2 separate regions of the Homo sapiens genome follow, and region 1 is reported to be linked to region 2. The links are microRNA targets in miRTarBase. Many come from high-throughput screens and were not tested one by one. Region 2 holds a microRNA gene; the other region holds the end of a gene's coding sequence.

Region 1 (3,398 bases), not on the chromosome of region 2:
TGTTACATAATCTGCAGTAAACATAGCCTAATGTACACAATTCTCTCCTGAAATACTTGATAACAAACAACTTAAACTGGAAGTCAAAAGTAATATGTAAAATAAGATATGATCTACAGCTGTATCAAGATTATTAATTACTCTAAGTGACTGCCTCTATGCAGAGTCGCTGGTTCATTAGCACATATATTTATATACTATAAAATTTAAAACAGGGACATACATGTTTAACTATAATGTGATTGCTCCATCATGCAAATATGTATGTCCTTTCCATTAAAAGTTAGCTTAAAATTCCTATATAATATACCTTGTCTTTTTAATAAAATGTTTTTCCTTAAAATTCTCAACTTTTATTTTTAAAATATAAAAACAGAAAAATCAGTATATACAATTCCATAAACAGTATGGTTAACTGAGAAAGCAATTATATAGCATACAAGCAAGTAACTTACAAAGACATAGAGATCTATAAAATATACATAACTATAAAATTCATGTAACAGCATTACAACATATAATTTAATATTTTAACATTTTCAAAAGGTCTTTTAGAATTACAAAGACTATTAAGCATAGGATTTCAAAAGTCAGTTGTGTTGTGGATGTTTGAAATGTCACTTCTCTTAAATGCTCTTTTATTAAGTTTAACACTAAATAACAGATTTTACTATACCAAAATCAAAGAAGAATGCAGGCAGTCAGGCAAATCCAAAAGCAGAATGATTTACTGTGTCACCAATTCTAACAAAATACACCAAAAAAAATCTCATAAATAGAGCTATTTCCTACAAATAACCACATGTGAATGCTTATGTTAGGAAGATTAAGATTAATACTAAGAGTATGCTGTCATGTTAACACGTTACATTCCAAAAGTAGCTTCCCTTTTTTTTTTTTTTTACAGTATAACAGACTATACATTTTCTGATTATAGTAACAGAAAAATGTGACATGCCAACATTAAGAACAGGTTTCTTAAGAACTAAATAAAAATTATCAATGAAAAACACTATATGCATATTGAGCACCCCCAGTATTAGTCATTTTTAACAAGAACAATTTGTAGGGTTTAAGATGTCTATAGTTGGATAAATTTTTCCAAGAAAAAGATATGTGACAAAAATAGTGTTATAGACTTATTTCTGCCAAAATGTCTTCTAGCATATTGTTTTAATTTTAATAACCTAATTTTTAAAAAAATCAAGAAATAAAGAATTTAGCCAGTGAAAATAGCACTAGAGGTTTACACATATTTTCCCTCTCATGTTTTAGTATTAAGTTTTAGTACCTTCTCACATCTTGAAAAGTGCAACTTTGAATTTGTTGGGTTCACATGTATCACACTTCTCATGTTGCTGCCAAGTATAGATGGATACAGTGATATGTCTAAAGTCATATTCTACAAAGTAAATATTTTCATTTTGAATCACTTATTTTTTCTAATTTATGTTATATTAACATAGAAAATTTAAAATTATGAAGTTGAAAACAACTCATAAAGTTGTCTCTTTTCTCTGTATTCCCAGGAAGAAATGACTAGCAAAGAATTTAGAAAGAATGATTATAATACATGTAACTATTAAATAACATATATTTAGAAGGAAATGTTTCAATTGTTTGTTATACTAAAACAGATGTTTAGAATATCATACATTCATTTTAGGATACAAAATATGCTTTCACATTTTAGGCAATAATTACTGAACTATTCCTTGGATTCATATATGCAACAATATACTTTTAGGATCTTTGTTTAATAAGATAATGTATTGATTTTAATAAAGAACATTTCCCTTTCATATTGCTCAATAACAATCGTATGCTGGTAAAAAGGATTACAGTTAAAAAGCAGAATAAAAGAACAAATACAACTGGGCATTAGAATAACTACATTGTGCTCTATTTAACCAACAACAGTACATAATTTAGAAGACAGATTTAAAAGACAAGTCAGTATTTAAATGAGCATCATGGGGTAAACCTCCATCATTTGAAATATTCTATATACAGAAAACATCTATAATCACACTGCTTGAAAAATTTCTCTTGCATATCCTTTAATATTTTCATGTGTTAAAAACACATTGAATTATCTCACTGGCTTTGGGCCCAATTCTAATTTATCAAATTGACCATGGTGGCAAATATATTCTGAGGAAGAGGTAGCAAAAAACAATGTGAAAGGACAGGAAACTTGGTTAATAAATAGATGTTGCCATATTGTTTGATGCAGATGTAACTTTCCTACTGAAGTTAATAAAAAATGACCTCTAAAATATACGCAAGATAAGTAATAAACCAAAAAGATATCTTTACAAATGTAAGGACATGTGAACAGGCATACACATGCACAAACACTAACACACCCCTACATCTATCTTTCTGGATAGTTCTCTTTCCAAATTCAACATTTTTGAGAAAACAAAACAAAACAAAACAAACAAACAAGAAACCAGAATAAAGGAAGTCCTAGGAAAATATATTCCAGTGTTTGATCATCCTTTACATTGATATCATCTCTCCAATAAAATGCTTAGTGTTGATGACATATGTATTATTAAAGACTAAATCCCCCATGGAGTACGTAAGATGTTAACAAAGTCTTCATCATCTACTATTCCTATACTTAAACCTTCATAGTAATCTTCAAATTCACCATATGACACTTCATCAGACTTGCTGCAGGCAACTTTTAATGTTTCTAGAAAGGATGATTTGATTTCTTCCTCTGTTGAATGGCCTATAAAATAGTACTGAGTATGAAACAGTTTCCTGAAAAGTTCAGTGAAATGACTGATGATGATAAAGGAATACTTAATCATCTTATGAAATACTTTCAACAATTTGAAATCTTTTGTCAAACTACCAGCCAATTTATTTACACATGAACTGGAATTATTTCATCTCATTCGATTTGCCACTCCTTCCCTGCCCCCTGCTCTCCTGCACTGATCTATCTCCAGGATCCCAGCACAGAACACAGTTTTTTTGATCATAAATTTTTAAAAAGAACAGAGGAATTGAAAGATGAAAGGAAGCTATAGTGACTGGTCAGATAACACTGAAAAGAGAATAAACAGAGGCCCATATATAATAGTAGAAAAAGGGTCAAAAATTTCTATGTGACCCTCTAAAACGTTTTAAAGTCAGGTTATGCTTTAAATAACAGGCTTAGATGGGAATACTACTCAAACCATTTGTCTAATGGGGTGGACAAAATTAAGGTGAGAGTTAATTTTTTTTCCCTCAAACCAGAGGTTCTCTAATGGACTTAGACAATAATGCATTGCAAAGGGTCTTTCAAACTAAAGGAATGAAATCTACTTTGAATATTAAGAAGTTTGCTTTCTTTTAAAAACATACACAAGAAATAGAGAAAAAGTCATTACTTTATA
Region 2 (3,417 bases):
TTCCCAGCCAGTGTGCCAGCAGATCTTGAGACCCTCAGCACTCAGGCAAGAGCCTGTGGCTGCTTTGAGACTGGTCACAAAAAGCAGGTGAGACTGGCCACCTTTAGCAGGAACAGCCTTTTTTGCCACACTGGGGCAGAGTTACATAGTTACAACAGAGGTTGTGTGGCCTGCAAAGCCTGAAGAATATACTATCTGGCCCTTTACAGAAGGGCTGACCCTGCCTTGGATTTGCTGACCCTGCCTTAGATTATTCAAACATCCGAATTGTAAATCTTTTTTTTTTTTTTTGGGATGGAGTTTCGCTCTGTCACTCAGGCTGGAGTGCAATGGCGCGATCTCGGTTCACTGGCACCTCTGCTTCCCAGGTTCAAGCAATTCTCCTGCCTCAGCCTCCTGAGTAACTGGGACAACAGGCGCGCACCATCACGCCCAGCTAATTTTTGTATTTTTAGTAGAGAGGGGTTTTGCTATGTTGGTCAGGCTGCTCTCAAACTCCTGACCTTGTGATCTGCCTACCTCCGCCTCCCAAAGTGCTGGGATTATATAAAGAGTGGAATCAGGAAAAGCATATGAATATTCACCCTGAGACACTTATCTCTTTGGCCCCTAACTGTCTGGGCTTTTGAGCAAGTAGCTGGCACTGTGCCTCTGAGGACTACTAAATGCCACCTTCAGCCCAAAAGAAGCCTTGTCAGTCTCTAATCTTCCTTTCCATGCAGATTGCCACTGCCTTGTCTCACGTTCTTCTTTCCTGGGTGACACTGGCTTTCTATTTGTCCCCCTTATCTCACTCTGTCTTTCCTTGAGTCCATCATCTGGTCAACATTTACTGAGCTGAAGCTCCCTGGAGCTTACTCACTGAGCCTAGTAGAGTGCGGTCTACATTCCCATGGAGGAGATAAACCTGCGCTAGGGACTGTGGTAGCTCAGAGGGGCATGTACATCAGACGGAGGCATTCTGGGACTGAGTTTGGTACACCTGGGGTCTGATCTCCTTATGCAGAACATCTACCCTGCAGTCTGCATGACTGTGGTCAAGTCACTTTTCTAAACAAAAATCTGTAGCCTACAGGCTCCCAGATGCTAGCCTGGAGACTGATTCACTAGGTTGGGGTCCCAGAACTTGTATCCTGCTCAAGTTCCCCAGGGGGTTCTGGTGCACAGCTGGGTGTGGGGCCATTACCCCGTGTTGCCTTATTGATTTGATATTTAAGACCCTCTCTTTCCTGGCCTTGCAACCAAACCACCCACTTTTCCGCCACATGCTGTAATTGGAGCGCTCCCCAATCCTCTTACAGGGTTGTTGATTTCCTACACTTTATGCCTTTTTCCATCAGTCCCTTGTGCCTGAGGGCAGGGACCATGTCTTTACCCTGCATCTTCATTGCTCCAAGGACTTTGCACTTAAGGAGCTCTGACAGCATGCCTTAGATGAGCAGATGTGTCAGGGGCCCCGTGGTAGTTGGAATGAACATGGAAATTATCTTTCACAATTCCAATCTCAAAATATATATATATATATAATGTATAAATATATATAATTTATATTTATATATTTATTATATATAAATATAAATATATATATATATATTGCCTAGGCTGGAGTGCAGTGGTCCAATCTCCGCTCACTGTGACCTTTGCTTCCCAGGCTCAAGCTATCCTTCCACCTCAACCTCCCGAGTAGCTGGGTAGCTGGGACTACACGTGCAAGCCACCACATCTGGCTATGTTGTTGTTGTAGAGACAGAGTTTCGTCCTGTTGCCCAGGCTGGTCACGAATTCCTGAGCTCAAGTGATCCACCTGCCTTGGCCTCCCAAAGTGCTGGGATTACAGGTGTGAGCCACCACATCTGGCCTAAAACACTATTACCCAATATTTTTTCATGCCTGTATCTATTTGCAGTAGTTATTCCTGGTTCCTGCTAACCAGTGGATAAAAGCACATCTCTGTGATTTGGGGTAGTTTCTTGAAACACGTCTGTTCTCCCTTCCCAGACACATCATCTCAGAGTTGGAGCACCTGACGTTTGTCAACACGGATGTGGGCCGCTGCCGGGCATGGCTGCGGCTGGCCCTGAACGATGGCCTGATGGAGTGCTACCTGAAGCTGCTGCTGCAGGAGCAGGCCCGCTTGCATGAGTACTACCAGCCCACCGCCCTGCTCCGGGATGCTGAGGAGGGCGAGTTCCTCCTTAGCTTCCTGCAGGGCCTCACGTCCTTGTCCTTCGAACTCTCCTACAAGTCTGCCATCTTAAATGAGTGGACGCTCACCCCATTGGCCCTGTCTGGGCTTTGCCCGCTTTCTGAGCTGGACCCTCTCTCTACCTCTGGTGCAGAACTACAGCGGAAGGAATCTCTGGATTCCATTTCCCATTCTTCAGGCTCTGAAGACATCGAAGTCCATCACTCGGGCCATAAGATACGGAGGAACCAGAAGCTGACTGCCTCCTCCCTCAGCCTGGACACGGCCAGTTCATCCCAGCTGTCCTGCAGCCTAAACTCTGATAGCTGCTTACTCCAAGAGAATGGCTCCAAGAGTCCAGACCATTGCGAGGAGCCCATGTCCTGTGACTCAGACCTGGGCACAGCAAATGCTGAGGACTCAGACCGGTCTCTGCAAGAGTGAGTACGCTGCCCCCACTCCTTCCCATCTTCTCTCTTCCCTCCTTTCTTTCCTCTCCTCCTCCCTTTCTTCCCATAGCATGTGATTGTCTGTTACTGAACTCTATTAGTAATTAAAGAAAGCCAAGGGAGTCATCGACTTCTCCAGGGACTGGAGTAGCTGGGAACTGTAGCAGGCAATACAGGCATAGTGGAGAAAGTGGACTTAGAACAGCTTAGAGCTGGTTTGGGCTCCAGCTCTGCCCCGGTGACTTTTAGCAAGTTACTTGGCCGGGTGCGGTGGCTCATGCCTGAAATCCCAGCACTTGGGAGGCTGATACAGGAGGATTGCTTGAGCCCAGCAGTTCGAGGCCAGCCTGGGCAATGTAGCAAGATCCTGCCTCTAAATTAAAAATAAATAAATAAATAAAACAAAAACTGAAAACAAACAATAACAACAAAAAAACAAGATACTTAGTCTCTACAAGGCACAGTGTAAAATATTGTTGTCTTCATCTAGAAGGAAGGAAACTAATAGGTCAGAGTACATTTAAAACGTCCAACAAATAGATGAAACATAACGCATAAGAGTGTGACTTCACAGAATACCTCCTGGGGGACACAGGACCTGAGTGCTGCATGCAGGAGGTGGTGGACAGGTGGGGACAGACAGATGTGTGGAAGAGTATGTGGGGCAGATGAACTAGGCTGAAGAGAGAACTGGGCAGAGCCTTCTTCACACAGCCTTTTAAACATTTTTTTGCAGCTGGGCACGGTGGCTCACGCCTGTAATCCCAGCACCTTGGGAGGCCA

The links. Region 2 holds the annotated microRNA hsa-miR-4315 (CCGCUUUCUGAGCUGGAC, at 2,300-2,317, shown strand). A microRNA usually pairs through its seed, bases 2 to 8, with sites in the 3' UTR of a target mRNA and lowers its output. Matches are read on the target gene's strand: a 7mer-m8 pairs with bases 2 to 8, a 7mer-A1 pairs with bases 2 to 7 and ends in A, and an 8mer does both.
Region 1: miRTarBase lists CAPS2 as a target of hsa-miR-4315. The part of its 3' UTR that is shown has no 7-base or 8-base seed match.

What each region holds. Positions count from the first base shown.
Region 1 is chr12:75,276,323-75,279,720 of GRCh38, forward strand. It overlaps CAPS2 (calcyphosine 2), which reads right to left. Exons shown (of 17, transcript NM_001355024.4): 17 at 1-2,743. The coding sequence ends at 2,568. The region is part of intron 2 of CAPS2-AS1 (CAPS2 antisense RNA 1); the gene reads left to right. Among named protein-coding and RNA genes, the nearest start is that of CAPS2-AS1, 20 kb to the left of the region's middle.
Region 2 is chr17:45,474,308-45,477,724 of GRCh38, reverse strand. It overlaps MIR4315-1 (microRNA 4315-1), which reads left to right and starts at 2,290; the gene lies at 2,290-2,362. PLEKHM1 (pleckstrin homology and RUN domain containing M1) reads left to right here. Exons shown (of 12, transcript NM_014798.3): 4 at 1,999-2,625.